Linked DNA regions of Homo sapiens: regions 1, 2 and 4 are each linked to region 3. Evidence: fine-mapped expression QTL. A gene starts in region 3. Each other region holds a variant in brackets. All regions are shown on one strand. Distances are from middle to middle.

Evidence for each region. PIP is the estimated chance that this variant, and not a neighbour inherited with it, causes the effect. A credible set is the group of variants that fine-mapping cannot tell apart.
Region 1: its variant is the best candidate, but not a certain one, in a credible set for the expression of DNMT3A in whole blood (INTERVAL, PIP 0.54).
Region 2: its variant is the best candidate, but not a certain one, in a credible set for the expression of DNMT3A in whole blood (INTERVAL, PIP 0.50).
Region 4: its variant is the best candidate, but not a certain one, in a credible set for the expression of DNMT3A in whole blood (TOPMed, PIP 0.55).

The regions. Positions count from the first base shown.
Region 1 is chr2:25,380,674-25,386,045 of GRCh38, forward strand. It overlaps DTNB (dystrobrevin beta), which reads right to left. Exons shown (of 21, transcript NM_021907.5): 19 at 3,163-3,216. Among named protein-coding and RNA genes, the nearest start is that of DTNB-AS1, 38 kb to the right of the region's middle. The variant CT/C (reference allele first, on the strand shown) is at 2,540.
Region 2 is chr2:25,314,422-25,319,793 of GRCh38, forward strand. All of the region lies in intron 1 of DNMT3A (DNA methyltransferase 3 alpha), which reads right to left. Among named protein-coding and RNA genes, the nearest start is that of MIR1301, 12 kb to the right of the region's middle. RefSeq lists an enhancer at 1-130. The variant T/C (reference allele first, on the strand shown) is at 2,695.
Region 3 is chr2:25,339,537-25,344,908 of GRCh38, forward strand. It overlaps DNMT3A (DNA methyltransferase 3 alpha), which reads right to left and starts at 2,389. Exons shown (of 23, transcript NM_022552.5): 1 at 2,290-2,389. RefSeq lists silencers at 1,112-1,231, 1,512-1,751, 1,852-2,021, 2,312-2,521, 2,582-3,061 and an enhancer at 3,182-3,301.
Region 4 is chr2:25,359,057-25,364,428 of GRCh38, forward strand. No RefSeq gene overlaps it. Among named protein-coding and RNA genes, the nearest start is that of DNMT3A, 20 kb to the left of the region's middle. RefSeq lists enhancers at 3,137-3,216, 3,487-3,586, 3,637-3,686. The variant C/T (reference allele first, on the strand shown) is at 3,159.

The DNA of each region.
Region 1 (5,372 bases), 41 kb after region 3:
CAGTGCCCTGGGGCCTGGAGTGCCGGGAAAGGGAAACCCAGTCTGATGCGAACAGGGCAGTGCACGTGCAGAGACAGTGCCCTGGGGCCTGGAGGCCCGGGCGAGGGAAACCCAGTCTGATGTGGACAGTGGAGTGCAGGTGCAAAGACAGCACCTTGGGACCTGGAGGCCCGGGCAAGGGAAACCCAGTTTGATGTGGACAGGGGAGTGCAGGTGCAGAGACAGCACCCTGGGGCCTGGAGGGCTGGGCAAGGGAAACCCAGTCTGATTCCCATGTGAGGCATGGCCCACACTCAGACTCGAACCAGGATAAGGGCTAGAGTTCGTGGCCAGGGCAAGGCCTCAGTGGCTGGGGCAGTCCTAGGTTTGCTTTGGTGGAGTGAAAAGGACTGAGGAGAGGCCATGGGAAAAAGCTACTGGGGAAGGGAGGGGCAGGTGAAGGGAGGCCAGAGATGCAGCTGTTATGTCTTCAGCCAGGAACATTCCACATGAATGCTAGGATTTGGTTGGCATGTGCATGTGCATGTGCGTGTGCGTGTGTGTGCGCGTGTTTGCAGCATGTGTTTACACCAGTGTAAATTTATCTGTGTATCTCTTCACCTTTTGCCCTCCTGCCTTCTTTCTTGTCTGTGTGGGTAAGTCAATTGTTTCTACATTTCTATGAAGCATTCCTGGATGTCTGAAACACTACTGCTCTCTAATGTGACCTTTTATTTTTATTTTTTAGATAGGGCTTTGCTCTGTTATCCAGGCTGGAATGCAGTGGCGTGACTATAGCTCACTGCAGCCTTAAACTCCTGGGCTCAAGCAGTCCTCCTGCCTCTGCCTCCAAAGCAGCTGGGACTACAGGTGTGCACTACCACATCCGGCTAATTTATTTTTTGTAGAGATGGGGTCTTGCTATGTTGCCTATGCTGGTCTCAAACTCCTGGCATCAAGTGATCCCCCTGCCTCAGCCTCCTAAAGTGCTGGGATTACAGGTGTAAGCCACCATGCCCAGCCTAGTCTGACCTTTTGGTGTCCGTGCCACATATGTCATTCTCATCAACTCGTTGGCGCTGCTGTCCACTTCCTCCCAGGCCTAGCTCAGACTCACTAGACGATTTCAGAATCTGCAGAATCTTCTTCCTCTTCTCCCAGTTTCTTCCTCAGCAATTTCAGGGTCCTTGCTGACAAATTCCTTGCCCCGTGAGACTCCAAAGACGACCCTGTCTTAGCCACTCCAGCCCCTATGGGCCAAGAATGCTCCAGACCCACTGTCCTGTAGGTTTCCCTTTCTTGTCACAGCTTCCTTACCTGTATCTCCCACTTGGCTTCTACCCTTCCTTAAGTAAGACCACTCCACTTCCCTTAGTCTACCAGTTCAGCTCAGACTAAACCATGGGCATTGGAGTTGAACTCAGGCTGTGCCATTTATCAGCTGGCAGGTTCTTTCACTCCCCCGAGCCTTGTTCAGAATTCCTCCCTGGGAGGGCTGCTGCTGGCTCCTCCTCATGCTTCCTGCTCTCCCTACCTTCACCTCCTTGGGGTGACCAGCCATTGCATTTCTCTCCCCGATAAGGTACTCTCTATCTCATCACCCCATTTATTTCCTTTGATTTGTTCATTTATTGACCTCCTACTAAGCACCAGGCACTGGAACACAACATGAACAAAACAGACTAAAATCTCTGCCTTGAGGAGCTGATGTTTAGGAGGAATCCAGCAACTAACACATTAATGCACAACAGAAAGAACAGCTCACCCTCAAATGTCCAAAGAAAATTTTGTTTTCTGTTCAGTATAACATAGAAGGATGAAGATTAAGAGCACGAAGTTTGGAGTCAGAAAGACCCAGTTCTCTGCCTTTTTTTTTTTTTTTTTTTTTTTTTTTGAGACAGAGTCTCTCTTTGTTGCCCAGGCTGGAGTGCAGTTGCGTGATCTTGGCTCACTGCAACCTCTGCCTCCTGAGTTCAAGGGATTCTCCTGCTTCAGCCTCCCGAGTAGCTGCGATTACAGGCATGCACCACCACACCTGGCTTATTTTTGTATTTTTAGTAGAGACAGGGTTTCACCATGTTGGCCAGGCTGCTCTCGAATTCCTGGCCTCAAGTGATCCGCCCGCCTCGGCCTTCCAAAGTGCTGGGATTACAGGTGTGAGCCACCACGTCTGGCCTAAATCTCTGCCGTTTAACAGCTACATGAACAACATCTCTCTGAGCCTATTTCCTCATGGGTAAAATGGGGATATTCGAATCTGTCTCACAGTGTTAAGGATTAGATGAGATCATCATACGTGAAAATCATTCCCTGCAGCTCTTCCCAGATGTCATGTGTTAAGCAGGTTCGATATATAATGAAACTAGGAAGGCACTACTGTCCTTTGCTGACACCTTCCCTTCTTGGTTTTATTCTTCCATGAAGCCACAAAACCATTTGGCTATTCTAGTCCACAACAATCTCTTCCTTTTCAGAAACCCTTATTATACTTATATGCTGAAAGTTTTATGATTAGCTTTTTCTGCCACTTCATTTGATCTATTTATTTTGCATTTTTGGT[CT/C]TTTTTTTTTTTTTTTTTGGAGATGGAGTTTCACTCTTGTTGCCCAGGACGGAGTGCAGTGGTGTGATCTCGGCTCACTGCAATCTCTGCCTCCCAGGTTCAAGTGATTCTCCTGCCTCATTCTCCCCAAGTAGCTGGGACTACAGGCGCCTGCCACCACACCTGGCTAATTTTTTGTATTTTTAGTAGAGATGAGGTTTCACTATGTTGGCCAGCCTGCTGGTCTTGAACTCCTGACCTTGTGATCCACCCGCCTCAGCCTCCCAAAGTGCTGGGATTACAGGCGTGAGCCACCGCACCTGGCCTGGTCTTGCTTTATTAACTAGATCATAAACTTCTCCAGTCAAAGGGTCATCTTTTGTGTTCTACTTGTATCTACTTCCTGTATCCCAACTACCTATCCCAGGATCAGGAAATGAGGAAGCTCTTGGTGATCGACTGACCTTGTCACCTGGAAGGTAAAACCTGACTGTCAGATGGGAAAAGTAGGTACAGGGACCTCGGGTCCGAAAGCTCTGGGAAAGGTGGTGGCAGGGAGGAATGCAGAAACAAAGTGGGGGGCGGCTGATCCATGAGCTCGGGCTCCCCATTTAAACGAGCAGTCCTGCTGAGCTGCCTTTACCTCTGTCTTTCCCATTCTGCATCTTCTCTTCTTCTTCCTCTGCACCTTCCTCTGCTGTGAAAACAAGTCCAAGGAGGCCAGTGACCCTTCGGCACAGGACAAGTACAGAAGGAGGGTGAACAAAGCAACTGCTGAGGCTTGGGAGGAAACTCTAGCTAACAGCTCCTGGCTGCAGGCCTCTGAGGGTGCTTCAGCTCACCAGTCTGCACTTGTGCGGCCCACGCCCCAGCACTGCTGAATAGGAGCCCGTAAGACCACAGCCCAAAGGGAGCAGTGCGGTCACATCGCTCACTTTCCTGACCAGGGCTGGGGGCGTGCAGTGTGGGGTTGCGTGCCTCTGTTCTATGCCTGTCTGCCCTCAGGTGGTGATGACCAGGGAGACATCTAATGTCTTGCATTCAGGTTTAAGAAAGTGACCATACAATATATGGTGGGGGAATACCTAGATTAACACGGGGTTCTGTTAAAAAAAAAAAATTCCGTATGTTTTAGCTGATGATAAACTTAAAATGACCGCACAGTGCAAAGTGGCTATGTGGGAAGTGCTAATGCCGTCTAAGGTGCTTTTCCAGGGGACACTCAAGAGGGTCACAGATGCCTTGTGCTCTGCAGGGACAAGATCCCCTGTGATGGAGAGCAGGGTGCTGGGCCCTGGGCATGTACTTTGAATAGGAGCCTTGGAAAATGGCCACATCCTGGTATGGTCAAGCAGGCTGGTAAGAGAAAACCATGTCACGTTTGGAAAGGTTGAAGGAATTGGGTGTAGCAGTCTACAGAGGAGAAAACTAGGAAGGGTTGTCATTTGCCATCCAACCCGTGAAAGGCGAGCCTGCAGAGGAGGGACTGAGCTTATCCTGGGTAGCTTGAGAGGACAGGGATAAATCAGTTACAGAAAGTGAGATTTTGGCTCCCCACTGAGGAAGAAGTTTCCAGTGATTAGAGTTGATCATGAATGAGCTCGCTGGAAATATTCAGAGGACTGTTTTATTGGGTGGCGAGTTGGATTAAATGACTTCTAACATCCTTTACAATTTTTTTCTTTTCTTTTCTTTTTTTTTTTTTGAGATGGAGTTTTGCTCATTGCCCAGGCTGGACTACAGCGGCGCGATCTTGGCTCACTGCAATCTCTGCATCCCAGGTTCAAGCGATTCTCCTGCCTCAGCCTCCCGAGTAGCTGGGATTACAGACATGCACCACCATGCCAGGCTAATTTTGTATTTTTAGTAGAGACGGGGTTTCATCATGTTGGTCAGGCTGGTCTTAAACTCCTGACCTTAGGTGATCCACCTGCCTCAGCCTCCCAAAGTGCTGGGATTACAGGTGTGAGCCACTGTGCCTGTGGCCTCGATCCTTTCCAATTCTAGGATTCGATTATCTGTGAAAAAACTTTATAAAGATGAGGACTACAAGCTATGTATATACAGTATGTATACACTGTATAGAATATATGTAAAGATAATCTGAGTATGTCCTCTCATTGGAACAAAAACCTGTCAAGTCACTGTCAAGGAGACAGTAAAAACATGTTGGTGATGGGTGAAGCTATTCCATTCACTGAGAAATTGGCACCCTCACATGTAAAGGGAGTTTATGTCTGCATGTTAGAGGGATACCGTGCCATGTGTGGCTTTGGTCCACGTCTACCTACAGGCTTCAGTGACTGAGAGGACAGCATCAGGGAAAGGGGCCTCTGGGACTCTGGGTTTGCTATCTTGTCCTGGAGGGGAGTAAGATCTCTGGCTTGATGCTCTGAAGACCCAGGTTCTAGGACCAGCTTTCCCCCTTCAAGCTGCACGACCTTAGGCAGACCACTTTTCTGATAAGCACAGGCTACATCTCTAAAGTAAGGGACTGGACAATGTGCTCTCTAAGGCACCTTCCAAATTACACTACATAATTTTGTTGAAACCATCCTTTCTTACTATGAGACACTGCTGAGGATTCCTATAAGCTTTACATTTTTGTGAAGCTATTTGGTCTCTATGTGCTTTCCACTTAATGGTATTTAATGACCTCTCACCCTAGCACGATGAACGCAGAAGCCACTTATTTTGCATAAACTCTAATAAGTGGCCATGAAGTACAAGTGTAGTTAATTCCCATGGCCCGAAATTCCCTGAGAAATTTCCTCTAAAAGTGGGATTTCTGACATCTGTGGGGAGCTGCATTAGGGAAAGCGCCTTCTAATCACCTGTGAGGTCATCCTGAAG
Region 2 (5,372 bases), 25 kb before region 3:
CAGCTGCCTCCGCCTCCTCCCTTCTCTTCATTCACAGCCTCTCTCTCCTTTGAAAGCTTCCCGCATCCTCCCTCCCACCCCAACCAGCCCCTGGGAAATCCCAGCCTCCCCCAGAGGCCCCTAGCCCAGCTACGTTTTCCTTCTAATCTGTCCTCACCCCCACCCCCACACCTCCCGCCACGTGGAGGAAGTGAGTGCAGTCACAGGATGTAGTGAAATGAATGTCACCTCACTTCAGGACCGGTGCCTGGGCCCAGAGAAAGCTGAGGTCTGAGCTCAGGCTGCAGGCCTGGTTGGCTCTGGCCTAGGAGGGAGAGGCCACGGCCACGGCCAAGGCCACAGGCCACGGCCACACTGAGGCAGGAGTGAGGCTGCTCTCTCCCCCACCCCATGAACCAGCCTCATTTGCCTGCAGAGTTGGTGGGCTTGAGGGGTCCTCTGAACCCACACGGCTGAGTTTAGGGGCTTTTCTTCCCTCTGCTCCAGGTGTAGGCCTCAAGCCAGAGAAATAACAAAGCCTGCAGCTCAGGCCACAGCTGGGGTGGGGGTGTTGCTGTCTCAGCCCCCTCACTCAGAGACACACAAGAGCTCCCCTGCTCCCCACCCCCGGAGGAGGCGGCCGCCAAGCCCCTGCCTTGAGTGTGCCAGGGCCCAGGAGGGGATTGGCAGGCAAGGGAGAGCGGGAGGCAGGCTGGATCTGGGCCCACCCACACCCTTCCCCTTCCAGTTCCTGGTTCTGCTTCCCCAGCTCCCCCTCCCTCCTGGGCTTCTCCTCCCATCCCCCTCCAGTCAGGGCTCCCTGGAAAACCAGGACCGGGAGAAAGCACAGGCTTGGCTCTCCTACAGGCCTAGCCCCTTTCTCCAGGGGTGCATTCTTGCCTGGGAGTGGGTGCCCCAGCCCTGGCTGTGCCCCAGGGGGTAGTGGGAGGAAGGAGCTGGCAGGAGGAGCTTCTTAGGGCCAGGACAGGAAGAGCTCCATCAGGTCAACCCAGAAAGGCTTGAAGCGGACCTGCCCCACAGCTGAGCCCTGAGGCAGCCCAGGTGCACTGCGTCCATTCCCCATACCCCTAGGCACAGCGCAGTGCTGGGCTTAAGGAAGGTTTGCTGCCCGGGTCCCGAGAGGGTGGACGGCAGCGGAGAGCAGCTCCATCGGCCACATGCCACTCAGGGCCTGGCTCGTGCTCTGCATCTGGGCAGCTGCTGTGCCGTGCCCAGTTTACAGGTGACGGTAAGATCAACAAGGCCAGGACCCATCAGAGGCATGAACCCAGATCTCTCTGACACTAAAGTTCTGAGGGGTTGGGTTCACGTCCCCCAACACACACCACAGAAGCAACTCTGAAGATCCCAAAAGAGAACTGGTCCAACCCAGAAGCACTCGGCTGCCAGCCCTTAGCAGCCAGTGATTCCCTGTCAAGCCTCACTCCCCATTTGTTACCACAGACATCTCCAGCCACACTAAAACAAAAACCTTCGAAAGGGTCAGAAGCTAAGAGGGGCAGAGTCTGATTGGAAAGAACGTTGAGCCCAAAGTCCGCAGGGGTGGGATCTACTCCTGACGGAGGCTTCCCCGGCCCTCAGTTTCCCCACCAATGAAATGGGAGAGCAGGACCCCTTCTATTAATAGCTCTGACCGGCCAAGGAAGCTGTTGCGGCCCCACAGGCACAGTGGACACACAAGGGGCTGACAAGGACAGGGCACCCCAAATGGAGTCGGGGGAGACCCAGGCACAAAGGAAGCGGGGCGGGAGGGTTGTCTTGATGCTGCCCTAGGCTTAGGGACACCCAGAGGGCATCTGTGCCGCCACGGGTGTGGCGAGGTTCAGAGAAGCTCTGGAGAGGAAGGAAGCTGGAGGGAAAAGCAGAACTTCACAGGGCATTGGCCCCAAGGGCAGACACCCCAGACAGGAAAGGAAAGGAAGATTCTCTTCCTCCTCCCCTTCCTCCACCCAAGACTCTGACATCTGAGCTGCAGAAACTGTCCTCACAGAAAATGCAGCTGACCTGGGTCAACCCTTTCGTGTTGCTCAATGGACCAGCCCTGTCAGTAGCAGTCCCTCAAAATCGTGTCCATCACCTAAAATCCTCCAGTATGTGTCTGGGCGGGCCATGTACTACACAACCCTAGGGGGCCCCAGTTGGTGGCCAAGGTCCCAGACCTTGACATAGCATTGCCCACCTACCCGTAGACGCTTCATTCTTCCTTCAGGCAGCCCAGCCATGGGGAGTGGGCTCTCCTGGGCCCACAGTCCCAACACAGCAGCGGGTGTCCACCACATCGGTCCTTCCACCGCACAGCCCTGGCTGCTTCCGATACCAAAGCGTTCTTCCCACCTGGGCCAAGGGCTGCACAGCCACCACCACTGCCACCAAAAAACCCTTGCCAAGAACCCTACCACCATGAAAAGCAGCTTTTATTTCCTCCTTTTAGAGTCCACAGTGACCATGAATAATGTTTGTTAACAGCCACTTAAAAAATTTCAAGGAATCCCACCATGAAAACATCTTCGTATCACAGCTGATATGATCACCATCTCCACTGCGTCAACTATAAAACTGTTGTGGAAAAAGAACTGAAAGCTTTGAATATGCATACCAAGGCTCACTACCTTCTAAACTCAATGCAATAGAAACATTTTTTGTTTGTTTGTTTAGAGCAGGTTCTTGCTCTGTCACCCAGGCTGGATGCAGTGG[T/C]AGTATCATAGCTCAATGCAGCCTCAAACTCCTGGGCTCAAGTGCAAGTGATCCTCCCACCTCATCCTCCTGAGTAGGTGGGACTACAGCCATGTACCACCACACCTGGCTTTTTTTTTTTTTTTTTGTAGAAACAGGGTCTCCCTATGTTGCCCAGGCTGGTCTTGAACACATGGCTTCAAAGGATCCTCCCACCTCAGCCTCCCAAAGTGTTGGGATTCCAAGCATGAGCCACCACACCTGGCCAAAAGATTTTTTAAGACATAAAATCACAAGATTAGGCTGAACAAGAGAAGGAATACCACCAACAAAATTGTGGAATCTGGAAAGCAGACTTGTGACAGCCAAATTTCAGACAGGCGTGTGAACGCTGATATATAACACAGTCTTCAACAGATGCTTATATGACAGCACCAGGTACTCTGGCACTAGGGCTGAAGAGGATGCTTGTGTGAGAAACGAGAGGCTGAGTGAGAGTAGTGAATTCCTAGACCCTCTTCTACAAGTTTGAAGGTTTATCTGTAGTCACTGGAGGGCATAAAATAGGGGGTCTTTGCACAGAGTCACTTGGCACAGCTGAAGACAAAGATGATATATCAAACCAAGGAGAGGAAGGTTATTTATTTATTTATTTTCTGAGATGGAGTTTCACTCCTGTTGCCCAGGCTGGAGTGCAATGCCGCGATCTCGGCTCACCGCAACCTCCGCCTCGCGGGTTCAAGCGATTCTCCTGCCTCAGCCTCCCGAGTAGCTGGGATTACAGGCATGTACCACCAAGCCTGGCTAATTTTGTACTTTTAGTAGAGATGGGGTTTCTCCATGTTGGTCAGGCTGGTCTCGAACTCCCAATCTCAGGTGATCTGCCCACGTCAGCCTCCCAAAGTGCTGGGATTACAGGCATGAGCCACCGCGCCGGCCGGGAAGGTTATTTTAAATGCTGATGTCCAGTCTCTCAGGCTATTCCCCGATTGGGCTCTAAGAATACTGGCAGCCAGACAACCATTTCCTTCTCTGGAGAATCGAATGAGTCTAAGAGGAAAGGTTTAAGGATGCCAATACCAACATCAGTACCAAAATGGGGTCAAAATGACTTATTCAGGTCAGCCTATGTAGACTTGAAAACCAACAAGTCCACTATCATTCTCAGAGCTTCCGATCAGTTGGGTTTTTTTGTTTGTTTTTGTTTTCTGAGACGGAGTCTTTCTCTGTTGCCCAGGCTGGAGTGAAGTGGCATGATCTCCACTCACTGCAACCTCCGCCTCCTGGGTTCAAGTGATTCTCATTTCTCAGCCTCCCGAGTAGCTGGGACCACAGGCGCCCGTCACCACTCCCGGCTAATTCTTGTATTTTTAGTAGAGACAGCTTTCGCCATGTTGGCCAGGCTGGTCTTGAACTCCTGACCTCAAGTGATCCACCCACCTTGGCCTCCCAAAGTGCTGGAATTACAGGTGTGAGCCACCGTGCCCAGCCAAAATTCTTAAAGAATAAACCAAATCTTAAACAATCTTCCAATTAGAATTATTTTCAGCCAAATTATCATTTAAGTGTGAGAGTAAAATAAAGACATTTTCTTTTTTCTTTTCTTTTTTTTTTTTTTTTTGAGATGGAGTCTCGCTCTGTCGCCCAGGCTAGAGTGCAGTGGTGCAATCTCGGCTCACTGCAAGCTCTGCCTCAGGGGTTCATGCCATTCTCCAGCCTCAGCCTCCCAAGTAGCCGGGACTACAGGCGCCCACCACCATGCCTGACTAATTTTTTTTCTATTTTTAGTAGAGACAGGGTTTCACCGTGTTAGCCAGGATGGTCTCAATCTCCTGACCTCGTGATCTGCCTGCCTCGGCCTCCCAAAGTGTTAGGATTACAGGTGTGAGCCACCACGCCTGGCCCTTTTCTTTTCTTTCTTTCTTTTTTTTTTTTTTTGAGACGGAGTCTTGCTCTGTCGCCCAGGCTGGAGTACAGTGGTGGGATCTCGGCTCACTGCAACCTCCACCTCCCGGGTTCATGCCATTCTCCTGCCTCAGCCTCCCAAGTAGCTGGTACTACAGGTGCCCACCACCACACCCGGCTAATTTTTTGTATTTCTAGTAGAGACGGGGTTTCACCATGTTAGCCAGGATGGTCTCGAGCTCCTGACCTGGTGATCCGCCCGCCTTAGCCTCCCAAAGTGCTGGGATTACAGGCATGAGCCACCACGCCCGGGGTCTTTTTTTTTTCTTAAATAGAGATGGGGTCTCACTATGTTGCCCAGGCTGATCTTGAACTCCTGGGCTCAAGTGATCCTCCCACCTCAGCATCCCAAAGTGCTGGGATTACAGGCGTAAGCCACCGTGCTGGGCCCTAGTAAAGACATCTTCAGACATATGAGGCCTCACGCTCCTTTCCCAGGAAGGACAGGAAGATGTCCTCTAATACGCATAAGATCCAGTACAGGAGAGATGGGAAGGGAGGCTCCAGGATGAAGGGGAAAAGAGGCCGCATGCCAGTCACCTGGCATGAGCCAGAGAGGGCCAGCCTTCCCACTGAGACTGGGGCACGAGTGCCGTCATCACCATGCCCTCTGCTGTCGAACTGTCTTTTTACCTGACAAAACTACACAGGTATCGCTCGTGGCCATACTCTGCTATCTAAACCCAGGAACTGAATAGATTTTTTCTTTCTTTCTTTTTTTTTTTTTTGAGATG
Region 3 (5,372 bases):
CAGAGCTGCTGCACAGGCCAGCCTGGTCCCTCGCCTGGAGCCAGCACATGTGCACACACAGACTCCCACCTTGACAGAGCCACCTGTCACAGCCCAAGCAGGGCCTCGGTAGAACCTGGAGGCAGAGGGGGACCATTTTGCCCCAGAAACCCAGCAGGAACTCCCTACAACCCAACTCTCCAAAGGCAGGCAGCTCAGAAAACTACCTGGAGATGGCCCCTGCTAGCCAACCAAAGAGGGTCCCCGGGATGCCTGGCCCCCCAAATCCCACAGGCCAGTCCTAACACCCAGGCAATAGCAAGGCGAATAGCTCCCCTGGCTGCAGCTGTCACATCTGCCCGCGAGGGAGGAGGCGACACTGGAGCAGCACCTGATCCCAGGATCCCTTCGTAGCCGCCCGCCCAGGAGGCGGGTTCAGCCGCTGGCAGCCTAGGGTGAAACATGAAGACTGAGCAGGCCCTCAGGGATGCTGATGGCAGTCTCTGGGCACGGCAGTGAGGGGCAAGTTGGGTCACAGGGCGGACAGCGCTTCTCCCCAAGGCTTCTGTCCCCGCTGGTTTGGAGGGGGGGTAGCTGCGCGGCCCTGGGGCTCGGCCCTGCCCACCCTCCCGCCTGCCGCAGGCCAGAGCTGCCCTGCTGGGTGCCAGACGCCATGTTGGGTCAAGGTGCAGCCGCAGGGGGCTCCCCTCAGGAGCCGGGGGAGGCAGCCCCTGGGAACCAGAGGGCACTGCTCCCCGCCCAGGGCGCCAACACCTCCTCAACTGGCCGTGCAGCGGAGAGAGGGTGCCAGGACGGAGGGGATGAGGAGAGGGGGAGAAATGGCAGAGGGGCGCTGGGGTGGGAGAGGGTGCCCCCAAGAAGGGAGGCTTCAGGAAAGCGAAAAGCAGTTTGGCAGCCCCAGGGCCGCGGGCCCCAGCGATGAGGGGCTGGGGGAGGCCAGGGGCGGGCCCTGGACCCGCGCCAGCCCGGTCCGCGCCGAAGGGGAGGGAAGGCAGGGCGGCCTGGGGGAGGGGAACTGGGGTGAGGGCGGGACACGGACAGCCGCCGCCTGCGGCTCCGAAGCTCGAGGTCTCCCGGGGTGCGGGGACGTGGGGCCGAAGACCCCGCTCCGCAGCCGCGGCGAGGCCTCGTCCTTCACTGTGCAGATGCGAAGCTTTCAAGGACACGTCTGCACCGGCCCGGCGGGGTGCGTGTGCGTGAGTGTGTCCGCGTGCGTGGGAGTGTGCGCGGGGGTGCTGGAGGGGCGACCCCGGGCGTACCCCCCCTGCGCCGCTCCCGGTCCCGGCCCCGCTACTTCCACCCCCGCGTTTTCCGGCCCCCGCGGCCCGGGCCCGGGCCCGGGATCCTCGCCCGCCCCCGCCCCGCCCCCACATTGCGGCGCCGCCACCGCGGCCGCCCGGGCACCCACGGCCCGCGGTGGGGACAGGGAGGAGCCGGGCACGACCACCCCTCTCCGTGCCGCCGGCACTCCGGGGGAAGGTGTGCCCCCAAGGCGGGCGCTCTCCCCGGCCCCGCCGCCCCTCCCGGCCCCGCCGGCGCCCCGCACCCCCAGCCACAGGTGGCCGGAGGAGGATCGCGGCGCGGCGCTCCCCGGCCCGGCCCCGCCATCACCCCTCGGCCCGCCCCCGGGGGCCTCCCGGGTCCCCCGCCCCGCGGGGCCGAGGAGGGCCGGGCGCCGGGGGGAGGGGCGGGGGGCCGGGTCGTGCCAGGCTGCCATTTTCTGCCGCCGCCGCGGAGCCTGCGCGGGGCCCGGCCCCCGCCCCCTCCCCCGCTCCCCCGGGCCGCCGCGGGGGCCGATCCTTCTGGGTCGGGGTCCGCGCCCTCCGGCGCCCTGGCCGCGGGCTCCAGGCGGGGCCGCGGGGCTGGGGCAGAGCCCGGAAGGCGGGGGCGGCCCGGCCGGGGCCCCTGCGGCAGCGGCGAGCCGGGCACCGCGGCGCAGGCCGGCGGTGGAGGGGCCCCCCGCGGCATTGTATAGACTTGAACTTGAGCCCGGAGCCGGGCGGGGGCGGGGAGGGGGGTCCGCGCCGGGAGCGGGCGGGACGGGAGGGGGCGCCTGCCGAGCCCGCGGGGACATAAACAAACCCTCAAATCCCCCGCGCCGCCCCGGCCAGCCCGGCCCGCCGTCCCCGCCTGCAGTCCCGGCCCCACGGGCGCCCGGCGCCGAGTTGCAGGGGTCCGGGAGCGTGCCCCGAGCCGGGCACTGCCAGCCGCGGCGCCCCCCGCCCGGCTCCCCGGCTCCCCGCCGCCTCCGGGCCGGCCTTCCGGGCCGCCAGCAGCGGCGCTCATTACCGTATGGCCGGTGGGGTCGGGCCGGCCCGGCTGCGCGCCCTGGTGCCGCGGCGCCGCGTCCCGGCTCGTCCTCTGCTCTCGCCGCCGCCGCCGCCCGCGCGCCCTCCCTCCCTCCCGGCCCGCCTGCCTGCCTCGCTCGCTCGCTCCCTCCCTCCGCTCGCTGTCGCGCTCCCTCTCTCCGCCTCCTCCGCCGGGTCCCCCCCTCCCACCCCTTCTCTCCGCCTTCCTCCTTCCCTCCCTCCGGCCGCCCGCGGGCCCAGGCCTCCGCCCGCCGCTCGCCCCCCGCGGCCGCGCTGGCCCCGGCCCCGGCGCTGCGGAGCCGGCCCGGGAGGCAGCGCCGACTGGGGGGCCCCGGGGCGCCGCGGCGGGAGCGGCCTGGGCGCGCGGCCGGTCCTAGCGCCCTCGGCGCGACTTCCCGGCCTCTGCGGCCCCGCCGGGGTCCCCGCACGCCGCTTGGCGGAGGTCTGGACCCCGCACCGCCCAGACCGGGGGCCGGGCCCCGGGCGCCCCGCCTCGGCCGCGCTCCCGGCCACTCAGAGCCCCTCGAGTCGTAGCCGAGCTCCGGGCCTCGCCGCAGCCCTCCCCACGCTGGGCGCCCCGCTACCTGGCGCTGCTTCTGCGCTGGGTCCCCGCATCCAGCACTGGCCGCAGGGACAGCGGCCCCTCCTCTCCCCGGGCCGGTGTCAAGTGCCTCCCCCCGCAGCCCGCGGAGCCCCCGGCGGCCTTCGCCCTGCAGTTCTCCCGACCTCCGCCAGAGCCCACTGCGCTCTGCCTGCCTCAGCACTGGGGCTGGGGACAGCAGCGCTGGCCCAACCGCGCCGCAACCCCCAGCCAGGTGCCGCCGCGGAGTAGAGGCCACTCTGCTCTACAGGGCCAAGGTCGGAGCGCCAGGCTCCTCCTGGCCGTCCCGCAGGCTCCAAAGCCTCTCTGAGATGAGCTGCCTTGAAGGGAGTGAGTTCCCCGTACCTTGAGGTGTCCAAGTAGAGTTGGGTGTCCTCAGTTGGGCACTGGAAGACTGAAAGATTTCATGAGGTGGGAGGTTGAATGAAATGACATTGAAGGTCTCTTCCAGCTGGAAGATTCTGTGTGTGCCTACACACCGCCCTCACCCCTTCACCGTGGGGGCTGTTCTCCTTCCCCATGGAGCGCTCAGGGCTCTAGGTTCCTGACTTGGGGCACCTCTGTCTAATTCCACCAGCACAGCCACTCACTATGTGCTCATCTCACTCCTCCAGCAGCCGCTGTAGGACTTGGGGCTGGGCACCCCCCCACCCCCGCCTCCAGCCTCCTTGCGCGCCCCAGCACCCCACCAGCCACCCGCAGCTCTGCACCCCGAATTCTACTCAGCACTTCAGCTATATCACAGTGCCCTGAGCTCCCTGACTGGCACAGGACATGGCGTGCTCCCTTCCCAGGGACCCGCCATCCTACTTGTGGGCAGGGATTGCTGGAGTTGGTGGTGGGACTCACTTCACAGTGAAGCGGATCCTACTTTTCCCTTCTCCCCATGCAGCCCAGCACCCGCCCCCCCAACGCCACCCTTTTAGCGTCACAGAACCGAGTTGCCAAGTTCTCTGGGACCGGGAGCTGACCTTTCATACAGACGGGAAGGTTTTCCTTCGGGAGGTTCTCCAATGCTTCCAGGTCCCTCCGTCTCCCCAACCCCCACCCTGAGCCTCGATATCTGAGACCAGCTTCTAGGCCATAGTTCTGGCCGTTTTCAGTGTCACCCTCACTCAAGTGGCCACCCCGCCCTACTGATGATAGGCCCTGCTGTCCATGGTCCCCACCGGCCCAGAGACTCCCAGTGCTCTGTGAGGACAGGGGCCGCGTCTGTCATCCCTGTAGCCCAGCACTTGGTGCTAGGAGATTCTCAGTAAACCTTGGTGGAATTAACATGTGACCCTCCTGGGCTGTTCGCTTTCTACATCAGGAGGGGCATCCGTGAACACTCTAAATGGCGCACCCAGCTTGGCAAAGGAGAAGACCGTTTATAGAAGGATGACTGAGATACCTCTGCCTTCATCAAGGGCTTACATATAACACGGCCCCAAACAGCAGCGACTGTTTACTGAGTGTCTACTATGTGCCAGGCACCAGACATGGTATTTTCTCTAGTCTTCACTAGCCCTGTGATATGGCTTGTACTCTCCTCACGCTACAGATGAAGAAACTGAGGCTCAGTCTTAGTCAAAGCCATACAGTTGGGAAGTGGCAGAGTCAGGATTCAAAGCCAGGTTCATCCGGCTCTGAAATCACCCCACATCACATCTTTTTTTTTTTTCTTTTATTGAGACACAGTCTCGCTCTGTTGCCCAGACTGGAGTGCAGTGGAGTGATCATGGCTCACTGTAGCCTCGACATTCTGGGCTCAACCAATCCTCCTGCCTCAGCCTTCTGAGTATCTGGGACTATAGATGCACACCACCATGCCTGGCTAATTTATTATTATTATTTGTAGAGATAGGGGCCTCTCTATGTTGATCAGGCTGGTCTTGAACTCCTGGGCTCAGGTGATGCTCCTATCTCAGGCTCCCAAGGTGTTGGGATGACAGGCATGAGCCATCGTGCCCAGCCCACACCACACTTTTGAAACATAGTTGCTCTTAAGAAGCTGAAATTCAGTGGGTGCAGTGGCTCACGCCTGTAACCCCAGCACTTTGGGAGGCCGAGGCGGGAGGATCACTTGAGGTCAGGAGTTCAAGACCAGCCTGGCTAACATGGTGAAACCCCGTCTCTACTTAAAATACAAAATTAGCTGGGTGTCATGGCGCATGCTTGTAAACCCAGTTACTCGGGAGGCTGAGGCAGGAGAATCGCTTGAACCTGGGTGGCGGAAGTTGCAGTGAGCTGATATCGTGCTACTGCACTCCAGCCTGGGTAACACAGCAAGACTTTGTCTCAAAAAAAAAAAAAAAAAAAAAAAGCTGAAATTCTCAGGGCCATGATGAGCAAATGTAAATTTCTATTCAATAGGGCTATTTATGATGACATTATTAGGAGCCACCAAAGTCACTTAGTATGGTAAAGTATGTAACCTTGGATGTATGGGTTGCTGGGGTCAAGAGGTCCAAGGTGACTGT
Region 4 (5,372 bases), 20 kb after region 3:
TCATGAGATCCTAGTCACAAACCCGGAGGCAGACAGGCCAGCCCTTGTTTTTTTGTTTTTTTGTTTTTTTTTTTTAGATGGAGTCTCGTGCTGTTGCCCAGGCTGGAGTGCAATAGTGCAATCTCGGCTCACTAAAACCTCCGCCTCCTGGGTTCAAGCGATTCTCATGCCTCAGCCTCCCGAGTAGCTGGGATTACAGGCACGCTCCATCATGCCTGGCTGATCTTTTGTATTTTTAGTAGAGATGGGGTTTCATCATGTTGATAAGGCTGGTCTGGAACTCCTGACCTCAAGATCTGCCGGCCTCGGCCTCCCAAAGTGCTGGGATTACAGGTGTGAGCAACTGCACCTGGCCCCAGCCCTTGTTTTGTCCATTTTAAGGATGAGGCTGCTGAGGTCCCGAGGGGGCTCTGAGCAAGCCAGCGGCAGAGCCAGGGCCAGACCAGGACTCTCACCTCACCCTCTGTCCACACAGAATTTCCCAGGGGGCCCGGGGCTCTCTTGTGCTAGAGACTGGCTGAGGCCGAGGGCTTGTCACCCAGCCCACCTGCTGCCAGGCTGGGTACTGGCTCACAGCTCTGTCCCTGAGCAGATCTAACCCAGCCCTCCCCTTGCTGTCCCCTCCCTCTCACTGCGTCCCAAGCACCCGGCCTCCAGGGTCATTTGGAAAACCTGCCTGTCCCCAGACATCTTGAAATCTCTTGAGTGGAGACCTTTCCTTGCCACACTTAATGAATTTCAGGAGCTGAATGTGGGCCCCTGGGAGGTTGGGGGCTGTGAACAGTGGGGAGAGGAGTAGACAGGGACAAAGAAGTTCAGGACAGGAAGGTGCAAGAACCTGGGCTGCGGGGGCTGATTTTCCTGAGCAGAACTGGGCTAGCATGTTCGTGGGGACAAGGGAACAATGGGGGAGATGGAGGCCGGGTGTTTTGCTAAGCCAGGGCAGGAAAGCCTGACCTTCTGCACTTCTCAGGGGCCCAGCAGTGCCCTCCACACAGACCCTGGAGATATGGGCTTGGGGCTCTTGCCCAGAGAGTGGCAGGGAGGGCCCATCTTAGGTCCTAAGGTGTCTGCTGGTTCTGCCAGGTCTAACTCAGGTGCCCAAGAAGCAAGTCCTCTGAGGGCCCCAAGACCACCCATAGTGGCCCTAGAAAAGGTGGCTCCCCCATCCCCCTTGAGCCTTAAACTTGGCAGATTTCCTGGATTCCATGACTGACACAGACCTTCCTTTCCCAGCAGCCAGCCCTGAGCAGGGCCCATGGACTCGCCCTGTCCCTTCCCCTCCTTGACCAGGCAAACCATCTTGAAGTTGCTAGAGCAAGATTCTTCCTTATCCACTGGGAGAGGCCAGGGTCTGTCCTTCTCTCAGGCCACCCCCACCCCCAGCCCCCCCTTCTCTTCTCAGGTGATTTTGGTGGCATACCTCTTCCTTTCTGTCCTAAGCCCATCAACCCCCCTCCCACTTTTTTTTTTTTTTTTTTTTTTTTTGGCCACAGAAAAGAAAGAAAAAGGAAAACAGCCTAAAGGCATATTCTCCTTTGTGTAAAATTAATATATGCTATTCAAGGGCATGTAAATGTAATTTTAAAGTCAGCTTTCTTGGGCCTTTGTTAGGAGGCCGCTGTCGTGGTCAGAAATCTACATAGCATATGGCATATAGTAGGTGGTCAATAAAAAAAAACTCATCCTGCCCTCCTCTCTCCCCGCCACCTTTCCTTTCTCAAGGGTCCCGAGGGCACCTGGGCTTCCCAAAGCAGAGAGGCCTGTTGGGGGCAGATGCCCACCTGCCCTCCCGCCACCCGTGCCTGTCTGGGCTTCTCCTCCCAGAACAAACCTCTCCTGCAGGGGAGGGCAGGTGGCACCTGAGGGACTGTCCTGAGGGCTACTGAGGGACTCAAGGAAAAAACCCACCTTGAGTCAAGCAAGTCTTCCATGTCTCAGAGGGGATCCTTCCCAGGCCTCCTTTTTTTTTTTTTTTTTGAGATGGAGTCTCAGAGTCTTGCTGTGTCACCCAGGCTGGAGTACAGTGGCGTGATCTCAGCTTACTGTAACCTCCGCCTCCCGGGTTCAAGCGATTCTCCTGCCTCAGCCTCCCGAGTAGCTGGGATTACAGACTGCACCATCATACCCAGCTAATTTTTTTTTTTTTTTGAGACAGAGTCCCACTCTGTCGCCTAGGCTGGAGTGCAGTGGCATGATCTTGGCTTACTGCAACCTCCGCCTCCCGGGTTCAAGCGATTCTCTTGCCTCAGCCTGCCAAGTAGCTGGGACTACGGGCACGTGCCACCACACCCGGGTGATTTTTGTATTTTTAGTAGAGACGGGGGTCTCACCATGTTGGCCAGGCTGGCCTCAAACTCCTTATCTCAGGTGATCCGCCTGCCTTGGCCTCCAACTCTGTGCTGGAGCTACAGATATGAGCCACCGCGTCCGGCCAGGCCGCCTTTTAAATTAGGATCAAGGAGCATGGCCTGAAAAAATGATTGTTTTAGTGCCCCGACCCCACGAGGGAGTGCGGGACTGAGACCCCCATCAGGCCACTGAGCAGGGGAGCCAGGACAGCTTGGCGGTCACACCCCGGAGGTCTGGGTGCAGCGCGGGAAGGCTGGGTCCCTTCTAGGATCTCTGGGCCACTAGTCCAGCTGTGGGGACAGTGTCCGAAGCCCCTGCCCCACTGACTGGGGATCCGGAAAAAGGGTGCCACCTCCCCACCCCAGGCATCTACTTTGCTTAATGGAGGCTGAGCCCAAAGAGATGCCATTGAGCACCTAACACCACTATTGCCACTTTTCTGGCCACTTTTCCACATCAAACTCATTCTTTTGGTCAAGTGGGAATAGAAATCAGGGAAAGTTGTGGGGAAAGTCATTTCAAGTAAACAGATTCAAAAGCGCTCGACAGCCCCTCGGCGGCTCCGCTCCGAATAACCCCACCGCGGTCAGCAGGTTTCGGAGCGGAGTCCGGGTCTCCATCGGCTGCAAAAACCAGCGAAGTGGGCGGCTCCGCCAGGCCGAGGACCCAGTGCAGTCGCCGCATTTCGCTCTTCACCCTCCAGGTGGCGCTAGCGGGGGCGGAGCGCATATTTGTATTTGGGGAGGAGCTTCAGAAATGCTGACTGTTGATTGGCTGGGCTCAGTCTCGCTTTCTTTTCTCCTTCC[C/T]GGCAGGGCTAGGGAGGGGACCCAGTCCCGGTGCCTGAGCTGCGCAAGAGGAAACGTGTGTGTGGGAATGGGACAGAGGGGACGGGGTTGGCTCACTTGACACAGAAAGAACATTTGGGGCATGGCCCCTGGGTGTGTTCACTCCTCAAGGACAATCCTGATTTCCTGGTTTTTGTTTTTTTAATAAAGGCAATTTGTTAAGTGTATAATGAACTGTGTTTTCCATTTGTCATTCCTTTATAAGACACCTCATAAATTTACACACCAGGAAAATCCTTGGTGGGACCTGTTGATAATAAAGACATCGTTATTTACAAAAGAACGAAGGTGAGGACCTTCTAGACCTCCCTTTTTCATTTTCTTGGTCTCTGAATGTTGTGTTTGTGTTACCAATATAACGATCTGTGGCTGTATTTTATTTGCACATCTAACAACTGATTGTTAAGCTTCCGCTATCTGGCAGGCATTGGGTGGGGTTTCTCTGAGTCAAGAGTGAGGAAAAAAAGAGGGGGAGCTCGTGGACAGGTAGGACAGGCGGCAGCCAGGATCCAGGCTGTGCACGGGGAACATTGAAGAACGCTGCCACGGCCCCGAAGAAGAAGTGGAGCCACGGGGAGAGGAACGGGGAATTTAGAGGAAGTGGGGCCCGAGGGCAGCGGAGCAGAGCCGCTAGCTCAAAAAGCGCAGTGCTGAAGTCACACTGATGTCACTGCAGAAGCCCAGAGGAGCTAAGGAGAGGTGAGATGTTGGGGGATTCCCTAGGGCAGCTGGAGTGGGCCCCTGGCCTTTTGTCCGGTTGGTGGGGAGGAAAGCATTGGAAAGTATAACTTCCAGAATATTTCCTTCTTGCTCAGGACAGAAAGCCATCTCTGGGGCCAGGCGCGGTGGCTCACGACTGTAATTTTAGCACTTTGGGAGGCTGAGGCGGGTGGATCACGAGGTCAGGAGTTCAAGACCAGCCTGGCCAACATGCTGAAACCCCGTCTCTACTCAAAATATAAAAATTAGCCGGGCATGGTGGCAGGCGCCTGTAATCCCAGCTACTCGGGAGGCTGAGGCAGGAGAATGGCTTGAATCTGGGAGGCAGAGGTTGTGGTGAGCCGATCATACTACTGTACTCCAGCCTGGGAGACAGAGTGAGACTCCGCCGCAAAAAAAAAAAAAAAAAAAAAAAAAAAAAAAAAAAAAAAAAGAAGAAATTTTTGCTAAGTGAATAAGGGAAGCAGATGCTTCTTGATCGGTAGAGAAAGCTCCCTCTAGGAGCCTGCACAGAGCCCAGTATCTCTGGCAAAGAATAAATTGTTCGGAGAGGGCTCTCTTTAGTGTAGGGGAAAGTAGCCCCTTTGCCCCGGGAGAAAACTGTGACAAGACCTTGGCGTTTCAAGGGCTTGAAGAAACTGCTCACCCACTGAGGGGGCAAGCAAGTCACAAGTGTGTGTATACCTGGTGGTGAGAGTGAGGTCTGCGAGGTGGTCCTCCCCATCCTGTCCTGCTCCTTACCTGCCATTCCAAGACCAGCCTCCACCCCAGAAGCAGATTTTCCCATGACTTGAGGGCTACAGCCTGGGCAGAGATTTGGCTCAGGGCCCTGGACTCCACCCCTCGACCTCCTTAAGTGGCCCTTTACATGTCTGGGCAGGGGAGACAAATCAGCGCCCCAAGCCTGAGCACCCGTGCCAGGCCTGGGGAGATCCTCAGCCACCTGGCACCGGGCGTGGGGCTTGGGCCCTGGCAGTACCAGGTTCCCTTGTCCCCATCACTGTAGCCTCTCGCCTATGAGTCCAGGTAGGGTCTGGCCAGTGCGGCTCAGTGTGGCTTGACCCACAGTGCCCAGTGGATGGTGCAGACACTAGTGTCAGAGGAAGAAAGGAAAGCAACCATTATTACTCATTTGCTATGTGCTCAGCCCTGCTCCAGGTCTCTTACACATTTTAATATAATCCTTAGAACAACTAAATAGGTTGGAATTATCTTCATTTTATAGATGCAGAGAATAAGGCAGTGACCTGAGGTCACTCTAGAAAGGAGCAGCGTCAGGATTCAAATGAAGGTGTGCCTGCCCTCCAGAACCCATGCTTTTCCATTGAACCCTATAGCTGTCCAGGAAGGCATGGTCCCCAGGGATCCCAGGAACCCTCAGGTACCTCCCTGAGAAGCAGGGCCCCAGACAGGCCTCCAAGAAACAGGGAGGATGAGACAACTCCAGAGAAGAAG